7 linked regions of the Homo sapiens genome follow. The protein of the gene in region 3 purifies or fractionates together with the protein of the main gene of each other region. This does not show direct contact. Each region holds a gene or a part of one and is shown on either strand. Other genes may lie near its edges.

Region 1 (4,362 bases), on a different chromosome or scaffold from region 3:
CTGGAACAAAAGCACACAAATGATGGGGATGGGTATATTCCAGTAAAACTTTATTTACAGCAGGCTCCAGGTCATGTTTGGCCCAGGGTCATAGTTTGCTGAACTCTGCTCTAAATGTTCTGCTGATTTTTTCATCTCTTCTGTTTTTGGAAGCTTTTTTGGTTCTGTTTTCTGAATATAATATTGTTTGTACAGTATCTTTGTTTTTGTCTTATAGATTTACTTGCTTTTCTTTCTCAGGATATTAAATGATTGTTTTGTGGTGGTGGTGGTTTTTAAATATTTTTCTTGCATAGTCTTTATCTCCTCAGAGTTGCTTTTCTCCAGTTTTATTATTATTATTATTTATTTATTTATTTATATTAGAGATTTTCCTCCAATGTCTGGTGATCCTTGAGGGCTCATATTTTAAGAGGGGCACTAAAAACTGATCGTTAACTGTCTGCAGGTGTGGGCAAGGATCAGTTACTGGCTCTCACTGTTGACAGATCTGACACTGGGGAACTCCTGCATCTGCATCAAGCCTTTCCTAGGGGCTGTTTCGACTCCCAGAGAAGAATCTTTTCTTTTCCTGCTTAAAGGCTCAATATCTGACCAGGAGGCCTTTGTGGGAGTTAAGCAGGAAACGAAGGCTGGGACATGTGCTAACATTCACTCGTCTCCCTGTTTTCGTTCTCAACTGTTCCTGGTGTCCCCTAGTCCAGTAACCCTGTTGTTTTACCTTCTCCAAAGAAATCACCTTTAGTGTTCTGATGTGGTTGTAGAGCTGCTAGATTTGTGGAGGAGGAAAGGGTACTGAAAATCCAACTCATTCTAAACAGACTTTTAACTAGCCTCGTGTTTTTAAAAAGCCCAATTTCACTCACCACCCCCAACCCCACTTCCTGGTACTGCCAGTTGTTACTGCTATATCTACCCCTCTCTGTTTAAGAGTTTATACCCTTTTAAAAATCCTTTTATTGCTGTTTAAGTGGAGTTTGAGGAAGGAGCTCAGCTACGTGCATGTATTTAGTCTACAGTCTTCAACTAAAATCCCTCTAACCTTTGAATCATCTTTTACTGTTGTGTTAAACTAAGTTTGAGGGCCCCATATCAGAGATCAGCTCCTGGGATGCCTTTATTTTTAGGTTAGAACTGAATTGTATTGCATCTTACTGACTTAGCAGATTCCCCCATATGGTTTTGCCCTTTGTTAAGTGCCTATAAGCCCTTTATTTCCCTGTTCTCTTACACGGCAAACTTGTCCTCTCCCAGCAAGTTTTCCCTCCCTCTCTTTCACTTCTGTACTCAATTTATTGTGCTAAATTTGACAGTGGTTCTTAGAAAATTTTATATATGTAGCATAGAGTGAGCAATCGTTTGGAAAGTGGTGGGGGAAAGAGAAGAATGATTCTCTTTTGCTGTAATGAGTGTTTTAAATGCCGTTTTTCCCTAAGATGGACAAAATATTGGAATCAAGCATATTCCTGCAACCCAGTGTGGCATTTGGGTTCGAACCAGCAATGGAGGTCATTTTGCTTCGCCAAATTATCCTGACTCATATCCACCAAACAAGGAGTGTATCTACATTTTGGAAGGTATTTGAACGATTTCTTTTATTGGATGAATTTTTACTTTATTGTAAAACTAAATATGTTGGTAAAATGACCTATGTAAACCAGTTTGAATGAAATTTAAACATGTATTTGAATTAAACTGTAGTAATGATAAGTATTTCTGCATATTGAATACATTAACAAGATACTAGCAGAAATGTTAGGGGAAGTTTGAATCTCCCAAAGTATAATTCAACTACGTACATTAGTATGTATGAAAAACTTCTTTCTCTGATAAGAAACTTAAACTTACTGGCATCCCTTATAAGGCTTAATTCAAATTTATGTCCACATAAGTGAGTTCTTTTCATTTCTTCTGTTTATTTTTCTGTGTATTGTGGTACGTTGTATCTTGAACTAAGTATTAGCTTCTTGACTCTTCAGTTTGAATCACTCAAAAATATTTAATTTAGTAGATAGCATATGCCAATGGAAAAGATTACTATAGTTCTACAGAGTAGCATTATTTTTAATGTAAGATACATTTATCATGACTTGTATAGCAATTCTCACTAAGACCTTTGTCTATGAAGCAGTTAGCAGAACAGTTATTCTGCTTTTCTCATTTGTGTCAATACATTTATATTCTTTCTTGTTTGTGTTGTCCTGATTTGCTTACTCTTATTTTCTAGCTGCTCCACGTCAAAGAATAGAGTTGACCTTTGATGAACATTATTATATAGAACCATCATTTGAGTGTCGGTTTGATCACTTGGAAGTTCGAGATGGGCCATTTGGTTTCTCTCCTCTTATAGATCGTTACTGTGGCGTGAAAAGCCCTCCATTAATTAGATCAACAGGGAGATTCATGTGGATTAAGTTTAGTTCTGATGAAGAGCTTGAAGGACTGGGATTTCGAGCAAAATATTCATTTATTCCAGGTAAAGAATAAGTTATCTTTTAAGTGGTTGGGCATCTCACTCTAACTCTGATTTTAGAATCTTAAGGTTAGAAAAGAGATTAATTTGGTCAAGTTAATCAAATCAAGATTTTAAACAAATTAGCAAAGTCAAAGGGAAATTAGTCCATGAACAAATAAGAAGTTAATAGAAATTGGACATAGAAACGTATCACTTGAATTTTGAAGCATATCAGAGATGGTGCCACATTTTCTTAGATTTTTTTCTGTCTTATAGCACATGCTCAGGCTAACATTTAAAATACATTTAAAAATAAATAATTTTAAAAATAATTCAACAAATTGTCTTGTTTTCAGAATTCCCACAAAAATTGTTTTGTATGATTTTTCTCATTTAGCTGTTAGAATTAACCACTCAACTGAATGAATACTCTAGAATATATTGAGCAATAGAAAGAATACTGCTCTGCACTTGGATGTCAAAGATCTGGGTTTGAATTCTTTCTCTGCCTCCTAATAGCTGTAAGACGATTAAGCACAGAATTATGTTTGAGATTGGCCATTAGTAAAATGGGAATGCCTGCTGTGTTAGTTTATTGATGCTGCCATAACTAATTACCTCAAATTTGGCCACTTCAGACAGCAGAAACTGATTTTCTTGCCGTTGGGGAGACCAGAAGTCCAAAATTGAGCAGGGCCTCACTCCCTCTAGGAACCTGGGGGAGAATCCGGTCTTTGCTCCTTCCAGCCTCCAGTGCATGCCCCAGCATTGCTGGGCTGTGGCTGCATCACCTCAGTCTCAGCCTCCCTCTTCACAGCTCTTTCTACTCTTTTCAAGATCCTTAACCTAATGGCATCTTTTGTCTTGTAATATTTACTCTTTTAAAAAACTATATGTGTGTGTGTGTGTGTATAGATACATATATAAGTGCACCCTACTACTCACAGGTTATGGGGAATCCAATGTGTGTATATTGGGGGGCTACTGTACCATCAGCCTGCTCCACCGTGTTACCTGCCCCACAGTAGGTGAGAACACTCTGAGAACTGTAAAGCCCTGTCCAGTATGGCGTGTACATATCCCTAATGCAGAAACAGATGTGCAAGTTATTGTTCCTGTCTTCACCAAGCTTACACACTAACAAGATGAAAAAATAACAGTAAGACAACTGCATGATCTTTTTGCTTTTATTTTTCGTGCAAGAAATTTAATTGGAAAAAATTAAAACATTGAAATGAAAAGAAAATATCCATAATCCTTCCACCCTGTATATAAAATCAGTGTGAACAATTTGGTGTATATCCCTTCCAGTGTTTTTCTATATCTGTTTCTTTTGTTTGTTACACAAGATTGGGATTATGGTACACATATAACTTTATTATCTGCTTTTTTGCCTGAAAAACAGATGTTTGCCTGTTAGTACTTATGTAGGAAATTTTAAGCTTGGCTTCAGTGTTTATCTGCTCTTTTTAAAAATTTTTTTCTATATTCTCCATAGCCAACCAAGTATTTATTTGCACAATACCAAAAGGATATTTCCAAAAAGTAAACATTGTCTAATAGACTTTATTTTTTAGAACAGTTTTAGGTTCACAGCAAAATTACACAGGAAGTAGAGTTACCATAAGCCTCCTGCCTCCCTTTCCATCAGCATCTTGCACGAGAGTGGTGCATTTGTTACTAATGATGAGCCAACATCCATGCATCATTATCACCCAAAGCCTGTAGTTGACATTAGGGTTCACTCGCAGTAGGGTGTGCTCTGTGAGTTTTGACAAATGCATGATGACATGTATCCGCCCTTACAGAACCATACAGAACAGTCCCACTGCTCTAACAGTGCCCCGTGCTCTGCCTGTTGGTCCCTCCCTTTCCCCAAACCACTGGCAATCGCTGATCTCTTCAGT
Region 2 (4,362 bases), on a different chromosome or scaffold from region 3:
GTAGCAACTCTATAAGCAAAGTTCCCTCCAGCTCCTGGACAGGGGCCATCAAGCACCTAGGACACCCTACAACCCTTCTTCCCCCTTGTGGCCTCAGAGACTTGCCTGCAGCAGCCAAGGGAGCTCTGTGCCAACATTCAGGCTGCACACAGCCAGAGAGCCCTCTGCTCAAGGATCAAAATGCCCCAGAGCTTTTAACTACAGGAAAGCCAGAGAAATCTGCAGACATCCAGGATTTACTTTGTTTTGCCTTTTAAAGTTACAGCCTCTGATCCTGGTAGCTCCTCCTGAAGCACAGTCTCCTTCAAGAAGCTATGCTAAGCATTATCTCTGCTGTAAACACTAATAAAACTCAGCTAAAAGGTCTATCAGCCATATCTTCAATAAACAATTATAATTAAAAACACCCTGGGCTGGGTAAGATTATGTTCTACAAAAGATAAAAACAAGAGCTGAGGGAAATAATTTCTAGATTCCAACTCAGCAATCTCAAAAGCAAGTCATTTGTATAGTCAAATTAAAGTTCTTTTCCACCCATCTCCAATGCCTTTGTCAAACAAACAAACAAACAAACAAACAAACAAACACAATACAAAAAAAAACCCAGGCTGTCCTATGGTTGCTACCTTTGGAAACAGAGAATACTTTTAACTCTTCTTAGAATTCTTTTGCTACTTGTGGGATCCTGCATATAATTTCAGTTGCATTAGTTATGCTTTAAAGGAGCTAAAAGAAACTACAGGAACTAAGAATGGTTCAGTTAGGTAATTTCTATGTAATTAGAATTATTTTGATTACCGCCTTTGGCCTCTGGCTAACTTAATTGGTAAATGGTGTCTTCAAGAAAACAATAACAGAGTAATGCTTTCATTTTATGGATGTATTTTCAATTTCTCTTAATAGCTGCTCTGCCCCATCCCCCGTGCCAGCCTTACCCAGTTAATTCTGAGCAACAGTATTTTTCTGCTCCATTACCCCTTCCATCCTGCCTCTCAAGTGTAATTAAACTCTGCATTTCAGCAGATGGATTGTACCTGAAAAAGCACCAGGATCACACAGTACTACCTGGGGACTAGTTGATGGCAAGCATTCTTTTTTTCTTACAAAAATTATGATTATAATATCATTTTCTTGGAGTTGAAGTTTGGAATTGCAAACATTTCTTCCTCAGTCACCCCACTGGATAAGCCAATAAGAGCAACTCAACTCATAATAGCAAATAAAACCTTGCTCTTCCAAGGTCTGGAGGCTTTGCAAAAATAAGGATTTTGTGTCAATACTCACTGTGTTTTTTCCCAGAGATATGAGATAATTTTCTGATCATCTGAGCTCTTGCTGCCATCCAGGGTTGTGCTATCCACAGGAAGGGTCAGCTCTTTATCTGGGCCTGCATCTGCCTGAGGAGGCTTATTGTTTTCTGGAAGACAAAGAGTTAGAGGTCAAAAGCAGCCAGTCCAGGTGGGAAAGGAGAGGAACCAATTGGGACACATGTTCTGGAAGCCATGGACTCTGCCTCTCAGGCCACAGAACTGTCAGATACTGTGGGAGATGTGGTTACCGTCAGGGAGCACACAATAAAGAATATAAGGCTGAAACATATCAAGCAATTCTGACAGAAACATAGAACATAATGAAGTTATAATGCCATACTAAACTTGAACTCTAATGCTAAGGGAGTTCAAATGAAAGGATTTGAGTGACAAGACAGGGCTGTCCTGAGGAAGTCAGTTTTAAGCAGGCCCTTCAAGGACGTGGTATTGGGTTGGTGCAAAAGTAATTGCTATTGAAAGGAATGGCAAAAACCGCAATTACTTTTTAGGATTTGGGATGGCATAAACTCTATTTCCTAGGTCTCTTTGAAGGTACCAACAACAAGCCAAGGGAAGGGCACAAGCTGAGGCTGGGAAGTATCCTTCATCTCTAGCTATGAAGAAAGCACAAGGGGAAGGAACAATAGAAGTCACCAGAGGCTCTATGGATCGGTGCCTTCTGCTTCTACCCTCATACAGCTCAGAACCCAACACTCTTTTCCCCCAAGGTTAAATGGACCCACCAATAGAAGAGCCTGAACCACAAGGCTGGAGCTTACCAGGTTGCACAATAACAGTCACTTGAGCAGTGGCCTGCTGTCCTATTGTGTCAGTCACTGTGAGCTGGTAAGTGTAGTCTCCTTCTTGCATCGCAGAGAGCTGTAAGGTTGGTGTTCTAACACCCTACAAATACAAATACAGAAGTGGAAAAGTGGACTCCAGGAATCACATCACACAATAATTCCGACTCTGGTAAAAACGATTTAGTTTTCTAAACCAAAGACCTAAGATGGTACTGGGCTATTACGTACCAGTTCAGCATGTGAGTGAATATGGAGTCAGATATCATGAGGCACCTTGCTAAGGGTTTCCCCCTTCAAGGAAACAACCCTCTCTGACACAGCAGCAGTTTCAAATAAAGCCAGAACTCTCATAAGAGAGGGCAGTATTGGGAAATGTGCAGAGATTACCAAGGCCAGTCTCTATGACTCAAACCAGAAAGAATACCGTGAACAAACAATAAATGACCCAGTTTTAAAAACACTGTTTAAAAAGATCCTCTTCCTACTGAAGCTACACAGTGCTCCTAACAAAGCTGTCTCAGTGAAACATGGCAGCAGCTCAAGATGCTGTATAACACCATACTGTCTCCTTCAGGTCTGTACAGGTTCTGCAACAACCTAACATAACATTTAAACAAAAGTCAGGTAAAATGGAGGCTTTAAGGGAGGCCTTAAAACTGAGAAATATAGAATCTTGAGGGACATTATAAATAATTTTGGGCAAACTTCCAATGCAGGAACTTCCTGTAGAGCAGTAGGCAAAAACTAGTAGCCCATGGGCTGAATCCAGCTTGCAAATATTTTTTTTGGCCTGTGGTGTCTCTCATATTGGAAATTTTCACATAAAGGTCTCAATTTCTTTCTTCTCTTGAAAAGCTGGGTTATCAAGCAATGTTAGGACCATCCTTCCATGTGGCAACAACCAGCTGGACCTGAAGAGTAGATGACTCCTTTAGTCAGGGCTTAAGTTCAGCACAGCCACCATCCAGTTTTCTTTCTTTATGTTACCTGCCTGGTGACAGATCTAGTCTCTCTTCTTAAGCATCTCTAGAGAGAAGATACTCACCATCTAGCCAATCTACTCTAACTTGTTATAGAGCTCACTAAGATTTGCACCCTTGTAGCTTCTAAATAGTTTGACTCTCTGGAGTCATCCAGAACAACTAACATTTCTCAGCCTTTTCCTCTAATACTAAACATTTAAGATAATTTTTTTTTTTTTTTTTTTTTTTTTGAGATGGAGTCTTGCTCTGTCACCCAGGCTGGAGTGCAATGGCGTGATCTCGGCTCACTGCAACCTCCGCCTCCTAGGTTCAAGGGATTCTCCTGCCTCAGCCTCCCAAGTAGCTGGGATTACAGGCGCACGCCACTACGCCCGGCTAATTTTTTTATCTTTAGTAGAGACGGGGTTTCACAATGTTGGCCAGGCTGGTCTCGAACTCCTGACCTCATGATCCGCCCGCCTCAGCTTCCCAAAGTGCTGGGATTACAGGCGTGAGCCACCATACCCGGCCAAGATAAAGATTTTTGCTACCACGTTAATCAAAGGCCCCTAAAGCTTTCTCAGTTTGTTTGGAGGTTTCTAAAAATGCAGTCCAGCAGCTCTACTTCTCTTGGGCAAGAAAAAATAGGAACCATTCCCTCCTACCTGCATCTCCACCACTTTCCCTTTGCTGCTTGGGCTGAGTGACCACTCATAGCTGGTGATGCCATGATCATCAGTGCTCTGGTTCCCAAAGAGGGTGATGGAGTTTTGGGGCAGGGTGATCACTTGGTTGGGGCCTGCGTTGGCCACAGGGGGGTAATCCACAGCTTTGTTCACTGTCAGGTTTGCAGTAGTAGAGTTGGTAGCTCCATCAGAGTCTACTACAGTCAAGCTATCAGGGCAGAGAGAGGAGTGTGATCAGGGACGGGTTTAAGGAAAGAGGAATAAACACTAGAAGACTGAAAATTAAGGCTAAGAAATACCAATGTGGCAAGGTTACCTATTCTTACCCACTTCTATTGGAGAAGCAGAAAGTACTACTAGAAGCTAACACTGACTGAAGTTTTATGATGTGCTAGGCACTGCTCCAAGTTCTTTATATCTCATTAAATCCTCACAACAATTCTATAAAGTATCATCCTCATTTTACTCCTCACATATATGAGGAGAAAGACAGAGAGGCCAGGTGCGTTGGCACACACCTGTAATCCCAGCACTTTGGGAGGCCAAGGCGTGCGGATCACCTGAGGTTGGAAGTTTGAGACCAGCCTGGCCAACATGGTGA
Region 3 (3,918 bases):
GGCCTGTACCTGACAGCCCCGTCCACCCACCCTGGGCTGCAGCCACACAGTGAGTGACCATCTCCTATGTCCTTGGTTGAGTCACTCTTTGCGCATTCCAGTGAAATGCCTTTTGCTTGGCCTGAAGCAAGTCCAGAGGGGAGGTGAGCACAAAACTAGGTGCAGTATTGTCGGGGGGCACCCAAGCAGGGACACCAAGTTCTCCAAGAACAGTGAGTTGGAGGAACAGGAGAGACATCCCTCACCTGCCCAGGACCAGCGCAGAGCCCCACTGGAAAGAGATGAACACAAACAAGAAAGCGATTCCACGAACACCAGAGCCCAGCTCATTTTTACAGTGCCAGGACACAGGTCTTCTGGAGAACAGTGGTGAAAGTGATGCAACTTTTTAAAGAAGAATCACATGTTTGGAGAGTCACAAGATGGAAGATGGTGAATAAACAGCCATGTTCTCCTTCCCTTGTGAAATGAACAAAACACAGTACAGTAGGCTTGTTTTCATAGTGAACACACCAGCTTATCAACAGGATTTCTTCAGCTTACTGTAAATGCTATGGGGGTGTGTATGTAGAATACAAAGTTCAGTCAACTTTGAGTTTTGAGGAAAATGTAATCAAGGCGGCGGGCACGACCTTCGCAGCCCTTCCAGGGATTGCTCAATGCACGGATTCCGCTGGCACTGGCATGAAAGAGCCGATGGTTGCTGGGATGGCTTGGCCCCAGTGCAGGTGGCGGGGCTTGTGCCAGGCAAGGGGACCCCAGTGCTGCAACTGGAGCCCCATGAACTGTCCAAGTCTCAAAATGGTAACAATGACAGCCACAACCACACACTCGCCCAGTGTGCTCTTGCCCACCAAGCCCTTCCACACTCACAGCGTCAGCGGAACTTCAGTTCCCCTCCAAGTACGTGCTATTATCATCCCTCTTTTCTAAGAAAGGAAACTGAGGCATGAACTGTGTGTGGAACTTGCCTGAGTCTACACTGGGATTTGAACCCAAGCAATCTAGCTTGACCGTCCTTTGGTTATTTATTTATTTATTTATTTATTTATTTTTGAATCACAGATCTCTGACATAGGATGTAGTAGAGCAGAGAAGATTAAAGAAGGATTTTAAGGAGAATTTAAGAAAATAGAACAAAATGCAGAAATAAATCTTAGAAACTGAAGCAATGGATAGAGAACAAAAGAACAAGCCTATAGAGAAGAAAGTAGGCAATATTGGGGTGAGAGATGGGGGACATCGCATTCCCTGGATTTCCTTGTAGAGGGAGCATATTAAGGATGAGAAGGAATATTTTACCAAACGGGCTGGGGTGGAAGAGAGACGGGAAGGCTACCCCCACCATGAGTGGCCTCTACCTGATGCCTGGGACAGCTGGGGCTCCTGACTTGGGTCTGCTGGGTGGGGAAGGAGAGGGATTGAGCTGAGTTTTTCTGCATAACAGAGCAGAGAGGCCTTGGGGTTTGCTCAGACAGAGCGGTGGTCCTCCAGGACAGAGGAGGAGGGCAGAGAGAAGAGAAAAGGAGGCCCCCCAACACCCCCCACCCAATGAGTCAGAGGAAGAGGCTCAGCGGGGAAGAGAAATGCCCAATGGGGAAGCTCTCAGCTGTGTGCAGTGTGTGTGTGTGTGTGTGTGTGTGTACCTCTTCCTCCTTGTCTCTAAGGAGTAATACATCATTCCTGAAGACGTTAGTGTGGATGATTTTTGCTCTTCTCATTGAACTTGAATTGCAGCTCATTTCTGAATCTCAGTTGGTGTGGAGGGAGAGGGAGGCAGACCTCAGGGCTGGAGGCTGGAGGGCATTTTGGCTTCCACCAGCTTTGGGGAAAGACAGCCGAGAATATGATTCATGGAATTTGAAAACTGAGACTCTGTGGAGGACTCAGGGCAGTGTGGCTTTAACGACCCCATCTACTTGAGTGCAAAGCAGAATGCAGCCTGCCTGCTTTGAGTGCTGAGACTTGAGAGCAAAGGGGAGTAAGGAGGCTGCTAGGGGAACCCGTGGAAGTACAGCGGCCGCAGGAAGTCAGAAGGAAGGGGCCAGGGGAGAGAAGGAGGCCCATGCCTAGGCCAAAACTGTGTCACTCCAATGCAAAAAATCATGTAGGCAACACAAACACTAAAAAGTGAATAGTCAACTGTTATAGTTCTTTGTTCTACATGTTGCTAAACAAGTGTTTTGGATGATTGTGTCTTCACTAAATTTCTGACTTTCAACAATTGGTTCTGTGGGGTTCTTGGGGAAGCGTGCATGGACATTGATGTGACCGCCAGGACCAAGCAGGAAAGTGTCCAGGAAGCTACTCTAGGAGCTGCAAGCTGAGGAGCTGGAGGGTTTTTTGGTTTTGTTTTTGTTTTCTACTTTGAAACTTTTTATTGCATGTTCGTATCTCCGATCCTGGCCTGGCCCTGGGAACCCCCAAACATGCCACTTCCCATGTGCCTTGAGCAAGTCACTTAGCCTGTCTGGCCTTGGTTTGCTTGCCTGTGAAGTGAGGATGATATCGGGCATCCTAAGGTGGATGTGAGGATGTAATCTGAGAGCGTTAAAGCACCCAATAGTGCCCAACTAAATGGTAGTTGTCTTTCTTTATTGTTATCCTCTCTGTGTTTTGCCCATGGGTTGGAAATGCTCTTTAACTTACCTTGGGAAACCCAGTTGGGCACAGGCAACATTTGCGTAGTGACCCTTCCAGTCATCGGAGCACATGGTCTTCCACGAAGCAGCTGTGAACACCTGGAGCACGGCATTCTGACCACCCACCCGGACTGGCCGATGTGCAGAAAGAAAGGCTTATTAGTGGCCAGTGGAACCCTGAGACCATAGGCAGGGGTTTCTCCACAGCCAGCTCAAACCCCTCCTCTGCCAAATCTGACCCACTTCTTGTCCACGGCAGCCTCCCCATCACAGAGCAGTGACTCTGGATCCCTGAGACTTCTCGCTGGTCTCATCTTATTGCTTATGTGGTCTCCCCAAGAGAGCCAGAGCTCCATGGAAGGCCCTCCCTGACCCCCCAGCCCAACATGTCTTTGGGCAAACGCCAGTTCAATCCCAGCTGAAGACATGACCTAAAAATGGCAATGACTTGGACCCATTTTACAGATGGGAAGGGTCAGGGTTGGCTTCTGCTGCTTCCTTCTGTTTCCCCAGGGGAAGAGCCATGACCTTACCACAGCGGTACTCGTCCTCCCCGTCTTTGCAATCCGAGACTCCGTCACATCGAGCTATCAGCTCGATACACTTAAAGGATGAGCGACATCTGTACTTCCCTGAGCAGTCGAAGTGGACTGGGAAAAGGGAGGAAGGCAGGAATTAACCAACAGCTCTTTCAGAGTGCAACACTAACAACTGTCCCCCTGCCACACAGTGCGGAGCTGGCCCGTGAATAATGAAACCTGTATTGAAATTGCGTCCCTGTCAGCAGCCTGTTTCCTGCAGCCCAGTTTCTGTTTTGAATTCCAAGGGGTGGGGCTGCTGTGCCCCACTTTATCTCGCTATGTGGCCTGGCCCAGGAACCACAGTGCAAGGTGAATTTAGACTCTGGAGGTCTCAAGGTCAAGAGAGAAACTGCATGGCGGGGGGCCGACCTGCTGAGCCAGCCGAGCAAGGAGTCCTGACTGAGAACTGCTCGGCCTTCCTGGTTTCTCTTACCGAAGGCAGAAAGTGAACGAAGTGTGGACCACACAGTGGGGCAGGTGGCGAATTGAACTGACCTGTGATTCAGGTATTTGAAAGAAAAATTGTTCCCTATTAGAGACCCTCCATCCAAATGACCCACTTTCTCAAAAGCCACATGCACCTTATTGTAAAAACAGCTGGTGCGCCTGCATTGCATGAATAGGTCTCTTTGTCTTCTCCCCGCTGCCCCGGTCAGTGCCTCCCTCCCACCTGCAGGATTCTATTTCATCAGCTG
Region 4 (4,362 bases), on a different chromosome or scaffold from region 3:
CAATCTGTATATTAAGAATATATTTATGTTCCTGGATTTGAGAGAATATGTTGTTAAGGGTTTTGTTAAAAGCCTTAATTGTGTACAGCACTTTACATTGTAAGGTGATTAATTGCTGTGTCATAAGGCAGGGATTGGACAAATGTCTTAGGAGATTTAAACACAAATTACGTGTTTTGGCGGGGCTTTGTGTTTTGTAAACCTTTAGGTAATTCAGAATTTGACCACATATCCCATTTCTTGAGCACAGTATGATTAAGATTTTCCTTAAAATAACTTTACAAAATTTGTTAACACCCAAATTAAAGAGCAACTTCCAGTGAGGGTTCTTTTACCAGCGAATATCATTAGGTAGGAAAATTGAATTTCTGTCCAAGTGGGATTTATATATTAAAGCAGTGCAGCCAGTGATATATTTGGATATTAGGGTATTTGGCAAAGTCCCTCATGAGATATCCTTGAAGAATAGGACTTAAGAAATGTGGACTGGAGAATAATACAATTAGACTGATTTGTAATTGAGCGCCATAAACACTAATTGAATCCTTGTCAACAGCTGGGATGTAGCACTCTGCCTGTTTTTTTTTTTTAAATCAGTTGTTTGAATGAGGACACATAGCATGATGATGTTGTTGTTAATTCACAGATGATGTTAATCTAGTATCCACATTCCTGAAAATTGGATGGCAGGTTTATTTAGAAAACAAAATGATCTTGATGGGTTAGAATAGGACATCTCATTAACAATGTAACTTTTTTTTTTTAAATAAAGATGGGGTCTCACCATGTTGCCCAGGTTGGTCTTGAACTCCTGGGCTCAAATGGTCCTCCCACCTCAGCCCTCCTTAGTAGCTGCGATTACAGGTGTGCACCACCATCCCCATCATCCCCACCACATGATAACTCTTTTTTTTTTTCTGAGGTGGAGTCTCGCTTTGTTGCCCGGGCTGGAGTGCAGTGGTGTGATCTCAGCTCACTTCAACCTCTGCCTCCCGGGTTCATGCCATTCTCCTGCCTCAGGCTCCCGAGTAGCTGGGACTACAGGCACTGCCACCACGCCTGGCTAATTTTTTGTATTTTTAGTAGAGACGGGGTTTCACCGTGTTAGCCAGGATTGTCTTAATCTCCTGACCTCCTGATCCGCCCACCTCGGCCTCCCAAGTGCTGGGATTACAGGCGTGAACCACTGTGCCCGGCCGATAACTCTTAATAAAGTATAAATGTAAACTCTTTTCCTTTGCCTATTCCCAAAAAAGAAACTTGAAGAATACACTGGCCGGGTGGGATGGCTCACGCCTTTAATCCTAGCACTTTGGGAGGCTGAGGTGGGCGGATCACTTGAGCCCAGAAGTTTGAGACCAGCCTGGGCAACAGTGGTGAAACCCGATCTCTACACAAAAAAATACAAAAACTTGCCAGGCGTAGTGGTGCACGCCTGTAGTCCCAGCTGCTTGGGAGGCTGAGGTGAGAGAATCACTTGCGCCTGGGAGGTGGAGGTTGCAGTGAGCCAGGATTGTGCCACTGCATTCCAGCCTAGGTGACAGAGTGAGACCCTGTCTCAAAAAAAAAAAAAAAAAAAAAAAGGATACACCATACAAAATGGAGTTTCCAAAGCACATATTATGAATGACATAGATCATTTTCATTATATTTGAAAAAAGCAAGATTCAGAATTATATTCATGATTATAATTGTATTGACTACTATGTCTCAGTATTATTGAGACAAATCTCAATTTTGTGTTAAATATATATTAGAAAATATATAGAATAGTTCTAGATTGTATAATTAGGAATGGTTTTCTTTTTATTTTGCCTTTCTGTTTATTTCCCAATTTTCTACAATGAGCATGGAGCAAGGAGTAATAATAAAACACATTGAAGATAAAGTGTTTAATTTTTTTGATGATTTAAATGTGTAGCCTAAGGATAGTTAATTTATATTGTTACAGTAAAGATTTTCTCCTTCCTTTATTTGCCATGATAGAAAAGTCAGCATCAGCCATGGTGCTCTCTGCACATAACAGTCTGTTACTGTTTTTTTCCTCTATTACTAGGAATCCATTGAATCAGTTTTCATTTTTTTCCCCTTTATCAAAGGTTGAATTAATAAAAGGAAATTTACAAAGTGTTGGACTTACACTTCGTCTTGTCCAGTCAACTGATGGGTATGCTGGGCACGTCATCATTGAAACTGTGGCTCCAAACTCGCCTGCTGCAATTGCAGATCTTCAGCGGGGAGATCGACTTATCGCCATTGGAGGTAATTATGCTAATATGCATTATACTTTACCTTTACAGATAAACTACAAAGTAGGTGTGAGGTTTTTCCTTTCTTCCTTTTTCCTTATTTCTATAATATGCATATGTCACTTTTATAATGGAAATAAAGTAATAAACTTTATTATAAATAAAAATTCAAAGGAGGCCTTCAAAATACATTTAAAACATACATGCCATTTTAGTTCTAGTGTATAAATCTTTAAAATACTTTGTTTAGACCACTTTTATATAACCACTCTAATCCTTCCCTTCCCACCTTCTACTACTCTATTTATTTTTTCTTGAATGTGAAAGTAAGGGCAAATAAACAGGTTATCTTTCTGTACGACTACCACCATTGCTACTCTGAACCTAAAATTGGTAGTATTAGCACTACTGCCCCCATCACTTAGCACTAGATGATGAGCAGAAGAACCAACATTCCTTTTCCAGGAGGGCACATCTGAACTGTCCTGTGATCCTGTGTCATCTAAATGGCCAGCCATTTGTTAGTATGTTGTTGCTCAGAATTCAGCCCAAATCACTGGTGGAAAAATGTGTCACTTACATGCCTTCCTATCACTTGGATTGTTAACAGTAAAAACTCTCTGAAGATAGCAGGTTATTTGCTTGTATATAAATGTCTAAGCAGTAGGACTCACTGTGCACAGCAGTGAGGGGAAAGTCCAAGCCTTTTCAACCTTTGTAGTACCTGTCCCATCTATTCTAGGCTTGTTGAGAGATTTCTTGAACATATGGTTGGTCACAGTTGATCTGAAAAGGGCAATGTGATATTTTCTTTCACAGCTTAGACAATAAATAAGTTAGAACAGTTCCCAAATCAAGGTGCAGTTGTCCTTGGTTACATGTCAAAGAAACTCTGCCTTTGATTCAAATCCACCTTGACAATAAAATAATGAAAATTATTTAGTTGCATATCTGGGAGCCCAATTAAGTCAATATTTTCACATGGGAATCTCTGATCATGGCATAAGCAGTGCTTCTCAGACTTTCCCATGTATGCCAGTCACCCAGACCTGATGTTAAAATGTGCATTCTGAATCAGGAGACCTGTAGTGAGGCCCAAGATTCTTCATTTCTCACAGACTCCTCCCAAATGATGATGCTTATGCATAAACACTTAGGGAGGCATAAAATAGACATCATTCATTATATTAATATCATTTAATATTTTGGTTTTAGCTACAGGATAAAATTAATTTTTTCGGTCTTTTTTGGGGGTTGTGTTTCAATTACACAAGTAGTAAATACCTATTATCAAAAATAAATTAATTAACCTAAGCGATATAAATGTATACAGAGTGAAAAAGCAAAAGTCATCCCTTGACATCTAACATTTGTTAATTACAATAACAACAGGCCGGGCTCAGTGGCTCATGCCTGTAATCCCAGCACTTTGGGAGGCCGAGGCGGGTGGATCACCTGAGGTCAGGAGTTCGAGACCAGCCTGGCCAACATGGTGAAACCCATCTCTACTGAAAATATGAAAATTAGCTGGGCATGGTGGCAGGCGCCTGTAATCCCAGCTACTCAGGAGGCTGAGGCAGGAGAATTGCTTGAACCTGGGAGGCAGAGGTTGCAGTGAGCTGAGATCATACCATTGCACTCCAGCCTGGGCAACAAGAGCGAAACTCCATCTCAAATAATAATAATAATATGTATTAAGATGAAGGGCAGATACAATACACATTCATTGTTTTAAAAAAAAGAAAAACCTTGGAACATAACAGAAAAGCTTTTGTATGTCTCTTTTTTTGTTTTTTTGTTTGTTTGTTTTTTTCTGTACATAAATATATGCCTTTCCCAATTTTTGTTTAGGAAACAAAAATTTCTAAACTATGCATTTTTGTAATAGTCTTTATTTCTTTTAGCATGTTGTAAACTTTCCCCATGTCAACAGATATTTTTCAAAACATTTTTATATCGCTTTGATTCATTTATATGGGTATATAATTGATGATAGTTGAAATAAGATTGGCAAAATATTATATTTGAAGCTCAAAATGGAATTCATTTTACTGTTTCCTCAGCTTTTGAGTGTGTTTGAAATATTCCAAAAGAAAAATCCAGACTTGAATGG
Region 5 (4,362 bases), on a different chromosome or scaffold from region 3:
CTGACTTCAAAGTGTTCAAGAGGCCATTTGCATTAATACTTTCTAGGAAAAGGCAATGCCCCATACATCTTCATCTCTTACTCTCACAACTTCTGATACTTAGGGACCTTGGATGAGCTAGTATCTTCAAGACTGATTTATACTACAGAATCTTAACAAATTCACCCACCTAGGACAGTCAGAGTTGCATTTGCTGAAATACTTCCTGCACTGTTCTGAGCTGTGCAGCTGTATACCCCAATGTCCTCTATCTTCACATCCACGATAAAGAACACGTCATCCTCGGGCATCACATGCATGCGTCTCTCCCGTGCAGCTGGGAAGTCTGTGCCCCCATCCTTCTGCCAGGCTATCTGGGGGGCTGGGTGCCCCACAGCAGCACACTCCAAGCGTGCCATGGCCCCAGCTCGGATGGTGAGATCCATGGGGGTCTTGGTGAATGAGGGAAGCACTGAAATCAGAGAAACAATATAGGCATTAGCACAGTGGAGTCTTACAGGTTCACTTGCATTCCTTTTTATTATTTGTTTGTTTGTTTGATACTTACAGATTGTCCCTGACATAGATTGGGCAGGGGTTAATTCCAATTTCAAGTCAAGGAAACTAAAGTTGAGATGGAAAGATTAAAAGGCTTGCTCAAGGTTACAGATACAGAAACAATGAAGTCAGGATAAAACAGAGGTCATCTGATTCTCAGAATGAAGGTCTTCCTGCTATTTTCTGCCACTTTTTAGTTTCCTCAACAATCAACTGTGAGATCTTGGGTGTATCAATTAATCTCTTTGTACCCTGACCACTCACTTCATCTATTTTTTTTTTAAAGTCTCTCCTGGTAGCTCTAACATTCTGTGACTTTTAAGATACATGTTTTGCCCTACAATTTAAACTCAAAACTGTTCTATGTGCCAGGCCACAGCCATCATTTGCTGAGTGAATGCATTAATGAATCATATTCAAAATCTTCTACCACGGCAGATACAGATAGTTAAATGATAAAGTGGCAAGGATCCTACTGTAAAACTGTATACCTACCACACAAAGCAAACAAGAATAGACTTCTGTTAACAGTGGCTAACAGTGCATTTACTGAGCACTACCTTGTAGCCATTTTGCTACATCCTTTACACATATTATTTCACTAAATGAGCATAATGCCTCTAGGGGGCAGGTCCTATTATCCCTAATTGAAAGATGTGGAACTGGAGGCGGAGAAGTGAAGCAACCTGCTGAAAATCACGCAGGAGTGGCAGGATTCACACACAGATCTCTGAATTAAAGGCAGTGTGCATCCAGCATGATGCTTTGCAGCCTTCCAGATCAGTATACTACACTGTAAACTCTCAAAGAGGAAAACATTGCTGGGCACGGTGGCTCACACCTGTAATCCCAGCCAGCACTTTGTGAGGCCAAGGTGGGCAGATCACAAGGTCAGGCGTTCGAGACCAGCCTGACCAATATAGTGAAACCCCGTCTCTACTAAAAATACAAAAAATTGGCCGGGCATGGTGGCGCACGCCTGTAATCCCAGCTACTCAGGAGGCTGAGGTAGGAGAATTGCTTGAATCTGGGAGGTGGAGGTTGCAGTGAGCCAAGATTGCAACCAGGATGTCATCCAGCCTTGGGTGACAGTGCAAGATTCCGTCTCAAAAAAAAAAAAAAGAAAAAGAAAAAAAAAAGAGCAAAAACATGTCTGGTTCATCTCTGTGTTACTCACCACACTGAGTACGGTGTCGTCTTCAACATAATTGCAGGTTTAGATACAAATAACCAAGAATCTTAATTTTGTGGAATGAAAGGTAGGGAAAGGAAGAGTCAGGTGGGGAACTGTGAGAAGAAAAGACAGGGTTAAGATTAAGAGAGAAAAACAGGTGCTTTCTATTTCTAAAAGGTATCTTTAAATGCTAAAGGAAAAGTCAGATCACATACTATTTACTGTAAGCTTGGCTTTGACAGAGTAGGATGAACCAAAGTGATTGGAGATGACACACTGATATTTCCCCTCACTGGCAAATTCCACCTCGCGCAGCCGAAGGATGGTGGTATACTCCATCACCTCGCCACCTTGGGCCCGGAGGTGTGCATAATTTTCCATTTCAGCATCATGCAGTAGTTCATTGTCTTTTTTCCAAGCAAAAGTCATTGGGGAATCACTGCTGCTGGCAGCTGAGCAGATGAAACTCAAATTGGAACCTTTTATTGCCGACTGTGTTTCTGGCTGAACCGTGATCTGGGGTTTGGGAAAATCATCTGTTAAAAATGGAGAGGAGGAGACAAAACAATGTTAAGGCTCAAGAGTCCAAATACTACTCAAATTTGAACACCAAGAAATGCAAAAACAGTGGCTTAGGTTTTACCCTTTGTGTATGTTTTCCAGATGGACTAGCCGTCCCCATGTTGAAATGATACACTGGGAGAGTATTTATAAAGTAACTCATTCATCTCGAATACAGATGCAGATCTATTTATCAATCACTATTACCTGAGAAAAGACTGTTATTTTGGAGCTATCGGAAAACCCACACTTTATTCCTGATCCCTTATGCTTTCTATAAGTAGAAGAAGAAAGCAGTTTAAAAACTTCCAGGCTCAGGGATCATTTTTGAATGCTACTATCAGAAACTGCAATTGTTCCCATGTTCTCCCCAGATAATGAGCAGCAAAATTAGGAAATCAAACATCAATCATGATTAATCAACAAAGACAGCCATTAACACTTCATTTACCAAAACAGAACCACTATTTAAAAACAGTAATTTAGGTAGAGGCAAAAAAAAAAAAAAAAAAAGCTGATAGCAAAAGAAAAAGCATCTGTAAAACAAACTGTAAGACACTGGCTTCAGCCTGGAGCTTTGAGCGGCCAATCGTGCCGCCGCGCTGCCCTGTCAAAGCTACATTATAATTAGAGCTAAGCAACTCTTTCATTCTAACAGTTATTTTTAGTTCTCTGTTACATTTTGGAAAAGTTACCTTTTTGAACTTCAGTTTCTCAGCCATGATCTAAACCCAGAAGGAAACATCTGAGATCTACCAAAGCGTACCATTTGGGTGCTACTATTTGAAAAGACAACTTTTTATGTGTATTGAATGGGTTATAGGGGATGCTTTGATAACTCCAGGGCTGCTATTTTTCAATGTCTGCATATTGTAATCGAGGTGTTTTCTGTACTATTCTGAAATTCTCATCTAATAAATCGATGTTCAGATTCACAAGGAAGTGAAAAAAACGATGGATACTATACATGTGTTTCAACGTAATAGGGGGATCAGATCTTGGGACTAAAAAACTATGAAACAAGGACCATGGGAAAGGAGCAGTTCAGGCCCTTACAGATGAATGCCAAAAGCTTATTCAGTTCCAAAAGCTACATCAGAGGTTTTATTTCCAGAAACTACTGGCACTGCTTAATGCTGCAACCTAAAAATATATATCGTGGACAAAGCAGTTTTAAGTAAATTTTTAAATGCCAATGCAAAAGAAGGTTCTTAATATTTTAACACCCATGCTTAAATAAAAGCAAATTCTGATTTATTGGTTTATAAAACATATTTATTTTTACAGAGGTCTCCATGGCAGCTAATAGTAAATGGCAGCATCATGTAATAGACAGAAAGTTACACCAGAGATGAAAACTTTTCTTTTAAATCCAGATCTGCTACTAACTAGCTATGTAAAGTTCAGGTAACTAGATTTCTAATGCTGAGATTCTTGGATGCTAAAACAATGGACCTTAAAATTATTTATAATAAATTCACATTTCCTATTACTTGTAAATGTTTTACCGACCAATAGTTAATTTTTTAGCACCCCATAAATCATTAATAATTTTCTCTTTCATGTAAACCTCCCAACAAGCCTCAGAGTTGGGAAGAGAAGAAAGGAGAGTCCCCATTTCATGGATGCAGAGACTAATATTTAGGGAATTTAAGTTAAGTAGAAGGGCTGAGATTACCCTTCCATTCTCCCAAGATCCAATTTCATTCTCATTCCACCGCACCATCCTGATGCCAAAACAAAGATGAAGCAATTTTAGAAAACTCTCTTTCCCATCTGTGAAATTAAAATAATCAGCAAACTATAGACCCATTTTCCTCTACCTCAGCAGAAATAAAAGCTTTATAAAGAGATCATAAATCTATTCAAAACCATTATTTGGATAAATGGGAGGGGGAAAAAAGAAGAATAAATAAAAGGCAAGGGCAATACTTATACTCACCACACACAAAGCCATCTGGGCTAACAGCAAAAATGCTTCTTCCTTTTAGCAGCTGAGGATGGGCACAACTGGCATTTACAAAGCTCTGAAAGTTGTTTTCCGCCACCCACTGTGGGAGCCATTTTAGCTGGCAATCGCACAAAAGGCT
Region 6 (5,069 bases), on a different chromosome or scaffold from region 3:
TTCATGGCCAATTGGACCAGATAAATCTGACTTGCTACTTGATATCATCATCCCTTTGGGTTGTAATGGACAGGAATGAAGACACTCTTGTTATATGCAAAAAAAATATTAAGTATTTGCAGACAACATACATTTAAAATCATTTTAAAACTCTATGGCTGTAACAGGACCTTTTCAATCTCTAGAAAAATTAAATCGTGTACACACAAAGTTTAATAGTCCGTTAAAAAGTGTGAAAAATTGAAGCTTGTAAGGAAACAGTCCAGAACTACCAACCCAAATAAAAATGGCACTTTCCTGCTAACATCTACACACTGGTATGTTCGTTTTGGACAGCAACAATGTGCATTGGGGTGGGGGGTGAGGGACAGGAGGAGAAGGGTCATTTACATATTTCTCAATCCAAGTATATGAATTTAGAGGCCTTCCTCAAAAATACATGCACTCCTAAGCCTCCAAAGTCATGCTGCTATATTTAAGCATATAAAAACAGTCAGAACATATCAGGCATGTTAAAAGACAAGAAACAAACCTTTTTTCTTTTGACATGTGTGTGTCTTCCTCCAGAAAGAACGTCACGCTGTACCGAGTCTGGACATTCACTTTCTTGGCTCCCCAACAGCTGCACCTTACAAGAAAGTAAGGTGTGACACTCAGAAATGGCCACAATGGACTCAGATGGGGTCTTTGAGTCACGACAGCCTTTCTCATTTTCCCCTGATGTTTGAAAAGGAGCCTTAAAATTTAAAGGGTTGTAGGGGTCATCAGAATTACAGAATGAGTTCCACAGTTTGAGACTCTCTGCTTCATCTGCACTAGATTCCCAGTCATCTTCCTCCCCAGAACTATGCTCAGGGGTCTCAGGAAGGCTTCCAGACTGGGAGGAATTCTCTAGATCAGACTTGCCAGACAAATCCTTCTCTGAATCAGAAGGCTCTTCAGGAACAATTCTGGCAGCAGTCTGAATTGTTGCTGTAAAGTTCTGGGGATTATAAGGATCTACACTGCAGAAAGAGTTCCAAAGGTGAAGCCCTTCAGGGTCTTGTTCAAGGTCTGAGTCTGACAGTGAGCTATCACTATCAAAACCATCATCCTCAGCTTCCTCATCCCAATCCTCACCTTCTGGATCAGAACTTGTTTCCAGGTCACTGGATGCACCTCCCAAAATATAATCTATCAGTTTGTTACTACAAGCTGGTCTGGCAGAAATGGGAAGGTCACCTTCTAGGTATGAGTAATCAACTACACTTATTCGGCCCTCTCCAGGCTCCTTTTCCATAGGTATCTCACTAGATGGACAGCCCTCAGAAGGGCTCTCTTCTTCCAAAGCAAGTGGAACCTCTGTAGTTAATAATTCTATTTTTTCTTCAGTGGATTCCTGGGTGTTTCCAGGAATGTCTCCAGCAGCAGGAACAAACTGTGTTGGGTTATCTCTGCAGTGTTTTGGATCCATCCGGAGAAGGCTGTGTTCCTCCTCCAGGCTGTGGTAGCCATTATCCTGGTCAGGGGTGGGTAAATCTTGCCCCTTGCTAGCCTGTTGAAGGAATTCCAGCCGTTTCATGCGAAGATGGTGAATTTCTGGTAGGCCTTCCGTAGAAAGAGGTGGACATCCCTGCCACGAGGCCGGAATGAGTTCTGCACTCAGCGGCTGGGGATGACAATGGTCCTCTCTCAGGCAGCTGCTCTCTGGGGTTAGTGTCTGGAAGCCGACTACCTCGCTATTTCCATCACTGTTCTGATAGCTGACTTCTAGCCTAGGAAAGCAGTCCAGGTAGGAAGGGTTCAGCAAATAGGATACCACACTGAAATTGTCTATGCGTTGAATGTTTAGAGGCCCAGAGGGCGAAGAGCCAAGTTCCCGGTTAGAGTACAGACGGGATTGAAGGCTACTGGGCAACAGCTCCACTCCCCACAGCTGCTGCTCTAAGAGAAAAGCCTGTGCTGCAGGGTCCAAAGCACTTCCCTTGGCCTTAAGCTCCAATTTTAGGTCTGGGGGCGAGTATTGCCAGTGGATCCCCTCCTCTAGCCAATCAAGGGGACTGGTGACCGAGGGGTCTGAGGAGTCGAGCTGCAGCGAACTCAAAGATTTCTGCGCTGTGGGGGCGGCTGGTTTCTCCCGTCCCTTCAGGGCTCTCAGGGCGCTGTAGACTCCAGCAAAATCTAGCCATCTGGTCGGAAACATTCCACCGAAAAGTTGGCTCCAAATTAGCACCTTCTGAAGCAATCCGGGGAGCGGCGCAAGGAGCTGGGAGAGCAGTTTCGTCCAGTAACTGACCCGAGTCTCGGGCTGGGCAGAGGAAAGCAGTGTGGGGTTCCCGGAGTTTTCCGGGCCAAGAGGCGTCGGGAACTTAGAAGAGCCTGCTTGCGATCGCCGAGGGAAAAAGGGTGGCCAGAACCGGAAGCCCGCCCGAGGGCCAAGCCGTTTCCGCGATCCGCCTGTCCCCGGCTCCATCTCCTTTTTCTTGACAGTCTCTCAGGTAGGGCCGCGGCGCTCAGCGGCTGGAGGTCGACGGGATTCGGAGGAAGCCTACAGAGTCTCGGCCTTGCCCAGCGGTGGCGTCGCTGCTCCAGGCCGATCTTCGAGCCAGCAGAAAAGCCACAGAGGGCAGCGAATGCGGCAGCGGGCGGCAGAACACAGGGAAGAACAGCCCGCGCAATAGGCGGCGACTGATGCGACTTCCATCCTGGCGGGGAAGGAGGTTCCCTAGTCGGCTCGACGCTTCAACACCATGGATAGGAGTCCCCCCACGGCCTCGGCGATGGTTTTCCGACTGACAGAGGGTTGAAAAGCCCCTGAGCAACGCGATACCGGAAGGACTGGGTAGGCCGGCTGGTGCGGTGGAAGCGAAGCCCAAAATGGCCGCAGGGCCCGCGCGCCGGCAGGACACCCCCCTAGACGCCGGAAGAGACGCAGGACTGTTGGGCGTCTACGTCCCTAGCGCCGCGCCGCCCAACGTCACTCGCAAAATCCCCGGGGGGCGGGCCTTTCCGCCCACTTCCGTGTGGCCGCCGATTGGTTTTGCCAGATTTCCCTGTCGGCTTCCTTACTCGAGGTAGAGCCGCACGGCAGCGTGAGGTTGCATCAGCCGGGGCGGGGGGGGGGGGGGGGGGGGGGGGGGGAATGCACGCATGCGCAGTCGTTTCTGTGTGGTCTCCTAGGAGACCGCCCCAACAGCCCTCTAGGTTAAAGGTCTTGGGGAGGGGAGGGGTTTTCAAAATAACCCGAGAATTTCCCGGAGGCGTTTTGATGGCCTAATACACACTGACGTGTGTACAGTCATCCCCTCTCATGAAATGGGGATTAGTTCCAGGACCCCGTAGACACCAGAATCCGCAGACGGTCAAGTCCCTTATGTAAAATGGTATAGTGTTTGCATATAACCTGCATACACCTTCCCAGATATTTAAACCATCCCCTAGATTAAGTATAATACCTAATACAATGCAAGTGCTATGGAACTAGTTGTTATACTGTATTTATTTGTATTATGTTTTATTATCTTTATTTTTCCCGAATATTTTCAATCCATGGAAGGTTGAATGCCCCGCGGGCCAACTGTAGGGTTATCGTAGTCTTAGATTTTTATTATTTATTTATTTGAGACAGGGTCTAGCTCTGTCGCCCAGGCTGGAGTGCAGTAGTGCGATCTCGGCTCACTGCAGCCTCAACCTCCTGGGCTCCAGTGAGCCTCCCACCTCAGCCTCCCGAGGAGCTGGGACTACAGGCTCGCACCACCACGCCCAGCTAAATTTTTTTTTTTTTTGAGACGGATTCCCACTCTGTCGCCAGGCTGGAGTGCAGTGGCGCAATCTCGGCTCACTGCAACCTCCGCCTCCCGGGTTCAAGCGATTCTCCTGCCCCAGCCTCCCTAGTAGCTGGTACTACAGGCGTGTGCCACCACGCCCAGTTAATTTTTTGTATTTTTAGTAGAGACAGGGTTTCACCATGTTGGCTAGGATGGTCTCGATCTCCTGACCTTGTGATCCGCCCGCCTCAGCCTCCCAAAGTGCTGGGATTACAGGCGTGAGCCACCGTGCTCGGCCAATTTTTGCATATTTTTATAGAGACAGGGTTTCGTCGTGTTGCCCAGGTTGGTTTCAAACTCAGCTCAAGTGATCTGCCCGCCTCGGCCTCCTAAAGTGCTGGGGTTACAGGCGTGAGCCACTGCGCCCAGCCTGACAGATATTTCAGGGTTCTCCTATTGTTCAGTACTATGTAGACCATCAACCTGAGATCTTATGTAAAAGTTGGGCAGTGCTGCGTACATACATGTCTGGTGTGGGGCAAACTAAACTCACAGAGAAGCAGCTCAGTCCCCAGAACTATTTACTCTCTTTTATGCTTCCAAGCAGGCAACATATTCAATTCATATTTATTAATACTTCCTTAGCAACCAGAACCACAGAATACAACAGCCAAAAAGGAAACATGGACCACTATCCTTTGAAAAAAAAAATGGCTGGTAATTTTAATTGCTGTATTTGATTATCTCTTGTGAGTTTGGTCTTAGTTCATTTCTTTATTTCTGCTAAAACTCTGTAATAGATACCCCTGAAGTCAAGTACCAATTACAGAGGGAGGGTGGCAGTTATGAGCACTAGGGACAGCAGAAAAATCTTTAGGGAGCTGGGAGGAGACCAGCAGCTCCTCCTGCCTTACTGGGCCTGTTCAAGGAACAACCACTTCTTTTTTTCTTTTTTGAGACGAGTCTCGCTCTGTTGCCCAGGATATAGTGCAGTGGTGTGATCTCTGCTCACTGCAACCTCCGCCTTCCTGGGTTCAAACTATTATCCTGCCTCAGCCTCCCTAGTAGCTAGGACTACAGGCACATGCCACCACGCCCGGCTAATTTTTGTATTTTTAGTAGAGACGGAGTTTCACCATGTTAGCCAGGATGGTCTCAATTTCCTGACCTTGTGATCTGCCCGCCTCAGCCTCCCAAAGTGCTGGGATTACAGGCGTGAGCCACCACGTTCGGCACAACCACTTCTTTCTAGGAAGCCAAGAGGACCTCAGTTTCTGTTGTTTATCCTGTATTATTATCCATACCTCTGGAAAATCTCAATCC
Region 7 (4,362 bases), on a different chromosome or scaffold from region 3:
AAGAATTATACCAATTTACAGTGTTATTGACAATAAATGAGAGTGGTTCATGTTTATGAGTTTTTCTAGCTCATATCTGTGACTTCTGTTTTCTTTTTCTGGGTTTCTTTTAGATTCTTGTGTTTTACTTTTTGCGATGTCTTCTGGCTTTTGTGAGCTGTATTTGTGAACTTTACTTTTACAAGTGAGTATAAAAACTTTGCTTCTAAAAGTGCTGTGAGGAAACCCATTATTGCATAGATTATCTGTTGTGATAGTCTAGGCAGTGATTAGAAATAGAAAACTCTTGACCGGGTGCGGTGGCTCACACCTGTAATCCCAGCACTTTGGGAGGCCAAGGCGGGCAGATCACCTGAGGTAGAGAGTTTGAGACCAGCCTGACCAACATGGAGAAACCCCATCTCTACTAAAAATACAAAATTAGCCGGTTGTGGTGGTGCATGCCTGTAATCCCAGCTACTCGGGAGGCTGAGGCAGGAGAGTCACTTGAACTTGGGAGGTGGAGGTTGTGGTGAGCTGAGATTGTGCCATTGCACTCCAGCCTGGGCGATAAGAGCAAAACTCCATCTCAAAAAAAAAAGAGAAAGAAGTAGAAAACACTTTCCTCCTAGCTCCTGATATATATATCATATACATATTTTTTTTTCTGGGAAAGAAAACTTTTTTTTTCATACTGAGTTTTATTGTATGCTGCTGCCAGTGTGGATAAAACAGTTACCCTTGTGAAATAGAAATTCATGAAATTCAGAGAGGTAGATGTTAAAGACTGATGAAACTAGAAGTTCGTATATTACAGCACATGTGCTACAGGGATAAGCTTTTGTACAGGCTTCAAATTTAGCTCTCTTTTGAATATCCACTGGATCATAAGAAGTGGTTTGGGAAACTTTTGAAATTCATTTTACTACAAAAAAGAACAGATTTTCTGGGGTCTGAAGGGATTTGTACTTGAAGATACTCTAGTCAGCAGAGGGTCATGTTGAACATTCTGCAGACAGAATTGTTTGAAGTCTGCAGCTGCCTGGGAAACTTTTATGCAGTTGAGCCTGGCCTCCAGCCGGGGCTGTTGAACCACTTTCTTCATAGCGGCAACGCTGGAGGAGCCAGACATGGTGCACGTGAGGGCCGGGCCAGTTCGTGGGTTGGTGGGTCGTGGGTCAGCGGGGCCTGACTGAAAACTTCTTGCTTTTATTTATTGTTCTCTTCTTTTTCTTTTTTTAATTTTTATTTTTCAATAGTTTTTGGGGTACAGGTGGGTTTTGGTTACATGGATAAGTTCTTTAGTGGTGATTTCTGAGATTTTGATGCACCCATCACCTGTAGCTCCTGATATTAAATCTGAAGTGTGACTTCTCGTTTGAAACCAACAGTTGAAGGGAACACTGTACTTCTAATTATCGTTTTCTTTCCTGAGGTCATAAATACCATATCCTTATATCATTCATTTTAATTCTGTTAAAAACTATCTAACTGGTCTTTACTTGATAGGATTTAGTAGAACCCTATTTTCGGTCCTAAGATACAGGATCATGATTTGCCTCTGCCCTACAGCTTAGTTGATAATAAACTACTCCCGGTGTGGGATATCACTGCTCTTGTTTGCACCCAATATATTGTCTTTCACAAAGTACCTATTAGTTGATTGAATATTAGTTGGGACTATTAAGCATTTAAGTGTCCCGGTAATAAATATAGCCACCTTTTTTACATGATAACTAACAAACGTCTTGTTTTAATAATGCTTTAGTAATATATTTAAAGGTATTTGGACTTAGTGATCATTATTTAAAATCTTCCCACAGCTAAAAATGTCAGATTTTAAAAAATGTTTGGCCTTGACTGTGAGTGGAGTGGAGGGAAAAAAAGTAAAGCTAGTGCTGCCTTTGAGGATTGTAACCGTAAATTCCGTAAATTGGTCTTTATATGGGTTTGGGCCTGAATTCAGATCACCTATGTGGTCCTTCAAGCCCTAAGCTGAGAATTTACTTTAATATATTTTATTTATTTTATTTTATTTTTGAGACTGTCACCCAGGCTGGAGTGCAGTGGCATGATTTCGGCTCACTGCAACCTCAGCCTCCCGGGTTCAAGCAATTCTGCCATCTCAGTCTCCTGAGTAGCTGGGATTACAGGTGCAAACCACCACGCCTGGCTAATTTTTTGTACCTTTAGTAGAGATGGGGTTTCACCGTGTCTTGGTCTCCTGACTTCGTGATCTGCCCGCCTCGGCCTCCCAAAGTGCTGGGATTACAGGTGTGAGCCACCAGGCCCAGCCGAGAATTTATTTTAAATTGTTCTGGGTTGGTAGTGCCCGTGGCATCTGGCAAAAAATTTCTCTAGAGAAATGGACCCTTAACCCAAGTGTCTGAAAATTACCAGAGATAAAGTTCTAGTGAACAAGAAATTATAATAAAAATAAATCAGAGCACAGAGGGAGCAAAACATTATGGGTGAGAATCAGCAGAAATAACAGTCAACAGAACGTTCACCTGAAAAACTTCATTTATTGGGAAATAGGAATATAATGTAAGTATATTTAACATTTTCAAACAAGTAAAAGAACCAAAAACATGAACAAGAAACAAGAGATGACCAAATAAATTTAAAAAATTCAGAACTTATAAGAATCATATAATATGTAATATTATATAATATGAATAATATGTATATAATATTTATATTTAAGACTCAGTAGATAAACAGCAGATTAGACATTCTGATGAGTAAACTAGTAAATTGGAAGATTGATTTAAATAAATTACTCAAAATGCAGTACAGACAGACCAAAAAAAAAAGGTAATATAGAAAAGGTTAAGAAATGTGTAAGCCACGGCTGGGCACGGTGTTTTATGCCTGTAATCCCAGCACTTAGGGAGGCCGAGGCAGGTGGATCACTTGAGGTCAGGAGTTCGAAACCAGCCTGGCCAACATGGCGAAACCTCATCTCTACTAAAAATACAAAAATTAGCCAGGTGTGGTGGCACATGCCTATAGCCCCAGCTACTTGGGTGGTAGAGGCACGAGAATCACTTGAACTCAAGAGACGGAAATTGCAGTGAGCCAAGATCACCCCATTGCACTCCAGCCTGGGCAAGTGAGACTCTCTCTAAAAAAAAAAAAAAAAAGAAAAAAAAGAAACATGTAAGCCAGAGTTGAAAGAACTGACATACATCTAATCAGATTGTAGAAGGAGATGATAGAATGCGGAGAGGCAATATTCGGGGTATTAATAGCTGAGAATTTTCTAGAAATGATGGGAAAAAAAGATGCTAATCCATGGATTTAGTAAACCTAACATATCCCAAGCTAGATACATAAAAAATTAGTGTAGTGAAACTGTGTAAGACAATAGAGACAAAGAGAAAGATTTTAAAAATTGTCAGAGAACTAATAGAATACCTGCAAAGGAGTGTTAGGCAATTACACTGACAGAAGACTTTTTAACAGCCAGAAGACCAAAAAAGAATATCTTCAAAGTCCTGAGAGAAAATAACTTTCATCCTAAAATTGTATATTAGGTTAAGCCATCTTTTAAGACCAAGAGCTAAATACAGACTTTTCAGTTTAAAAAAAAAAGAGAAAGGGAAAAAAAAAGGAAGAAGCCTGTAATCCCAGTGCTTTGGGAGACTTAGGCAGGAGGATCATTGAGGATTGCTTGAGCTCAGGAATTTGAGATCAGCCTGGGCAACATAGCAAGACCTCATCTCTACAAAAAATTAGCTGGATGTGATGGCACATGCCTGTAGTCACAGTTACTCCTAGCCATTCAGGAGGCTGAGGCAGGAGGTTCCATTGAACACTGGAGTTCAAGGATACAGTGAGCTATGACCATGCCACTGCACTCCAGCCTGAGCGACAGAGAGTATGACTCTATCTCGGAGTGGGAGGAGGAGGGGAAGAAAGGAAACGAAAGGAAACCAACCAACCAAAAAAACGGAATTTATCATTAACAGATTCTTATTGAAATAACTTCTAAAAGAGGTACTTAGGAAAAAGCAAAATTATTTCAGAAAGAAGCTCTGAAATGCAGTAAGGAATCTGAGCTAGGAAATGATGAACACGTGGGTATGTCCGAACAAACATTGACTGAGTGAAGCAGTAATAATGCCTAAATACATTTAATTTGTGGGGTTCACACCTACAAGAAAGAATTAGAAGAAGATACGTAATTGCTTAAGTTTGAGAAACACTGATTTAACCACTTATTCACATTTTCATCTATCTCCTAGCCTTTTTTTCTGACAACTACCATTTATTGAGCAACTATGTGCCAGGCACTCTCCTAAGCACTTTTCCTTGCATTGTCCTCACAGAAACCTTACAAAGTTTGTATTATTATCATTATTTTATGCTTGAGGAATC

The links.
Region 1: the proteins of TMPRSS3 (region 3) and NETO2 purify together in Homo sapiens (affinity purification with mass spectrometry; 2 studies listed by BioGRID and IntAct, with this or other methods). This does not show direct contact.
Region 2: the proteins of TMPRSS3 (region 3) and KIAA0319L purify together in Homo sapiens (affinity purification with mass spectrometry; 2 studies listed by BioGRID and IntAct, with this or other methods). This does not show direct contact.
Region 4: the proteins of TMPRSS3 (region 3) and PDZD8 purify together in Homo sapiens (affinity purification with mass spectrometry; 2 studies listed by BioGRID and IntAct, with this or other methods). This does not show direct contact.
Region 5: the proteins of TMPRSS3 (region 3) and LRIG3 purify together in Homo sapiens (affinity purification with mass spectrometry; 2 studies listed by BioGRID and IntAct, with this or other methods). This does not show direct contact.
Region 6: the proteins of TMPRSS3 (region 3) and PPP1R15B purify together in Homo sapiens (affinity purification with mass spectrometry; 2 studies listed by BioGRID and IntAct, with this or other methods). This does not show direct contact.
Region 7: the proteins of TMPRSS3 (region 3) and ALG9 purify together in Homo sapiens (affinity purification with mass spectrometry; 2 studies listed by BioGRID and IntAct, with this or other methods). This does not show direct contact.

What each region holds. Positions count from the first base shown.
Region 1 is NC_000016.10:47,126,439-47,130,800, reverse strand, and holds part of NETO2 (neuropilin and tolloid-like protein 2 isoform 1 precursor), read left to right. Parts: intron 1-1,436; coding exon 1,437-1,577; intron 1,578-2,227; coding exon 2,228-2,476; intron 2,477-4,362. UniProt on the Homo sapiens protein: Accessory subunit of neuronal kainate-sensitive glutamate receptors, GRIK2 and GRIK3.
Region 2 is NC_000001.11:35,452,273-35,456,634, forward strand, and holds part of KIAA0319L (dyslexia-associated protein KIAA0319-like protein), read right to left. Parts: intron 3,970-4,362; coding exon 3,741-3,969; intron 2,214-3,740; coding exon 2,090-2,213; intron 1,418-2,089; coding exon 1,285-1,417; intron 1-1,284.
Region 3 is NC_000021.9:42,385,754-42,389,671, forward strand, and holds part of TMPRSS3 (transmembrane protease serine 3), read right to left. Parts: intron 3,397-3,918; exon of another isoform or gene 3,293-3,396; coding exon 3,176-3,292; intron 2,774-3,175; coding exon 2,650-2,773; intron 1-2,649. UniProt on the Homo sapiens protein: Probable serine protease that plays a role in hearing. Acts as a permissive factor for cochlear hair cell survival and activation at the onset of hearing and is required for saccular hair cell survival. Activates ENaC (in vitro).
Region 4 is NC_000010.11:117,288,086-117,292,447, reverse strand, and holds part of PDZD8 (PDZ domain-containing protein 8), read left to right. Parts: intron 1-2,099; coding exon 2,100-2,262; intron 2,263-4,362. UniProt on the Homo sapiens protein: Molecular tethering protein that connects endoplasmic reticulum and mitochondria membranes. PDZD8-dependent endoplasmic reticulum-mitochondria membrane tethering is essential for endoplasmic reticulum-mitochondria Ca(2+) transfer.
Region 5 is NC_000012.12:58,878,655-58,883,016, forward strand, and holds part of LRIG3 (leucine-rich repeats and immunoglobulin-like domains protein 3 isoform 2 precursor), read right to left. Parts: coding exon 4,215-4,362; intron 2,248-4,214; coding exon 1,927-2,247; intron 1,825-1,926; coding exon of another isoform or gene 1,754-1,824; exon of another isoform or gene 1,619-1,753; intron 452-1,618; coding exon 170-451; intron 1-169. UniProt on the Homo sapiens protein: May play a role in craniofacial and inner ear morphogenesis during embryonic development. May act within the otic vesicle epithelium to control formation of the lateral semicircular canal in the inner ear, possibly by restricting the expression of NTN1.
Region 6 is NC_000001.11:204,408,960-204,414,028, forward strand, and holds the start of PPP1R15B (protein phosphatase 1 regulatory subunit 15B), read right to left. Parts: upstream 2,859-5,069; 5' UTR 2,453-2,858; coding exon 533-2,452; intron 1-532. UniProt on the Homo sapiens protein: Maintains low levels of EIF2S1 phosphorylation in unstressed cells by promoting its dephosphorylation by PP1.
Region 7 is NC_000011.10:111,861,003-111,865,364, reverse strand, and holds part of ALG9 (alpha-1,2-mannosyltransferase ALG9), read left to right. Parts: intron 1-113; coding exon 114-184; intron 185-666; exon of another isoform or gene 667-1,172; intron 1,173-4,362. UniProt on the Homo sapiens protein: Mannosyltransferase that operates in the biosynthetic pathway of dolichol-linked oligosaccharides, the glycan precursors employed in protein asparagine (N)-glycosylation.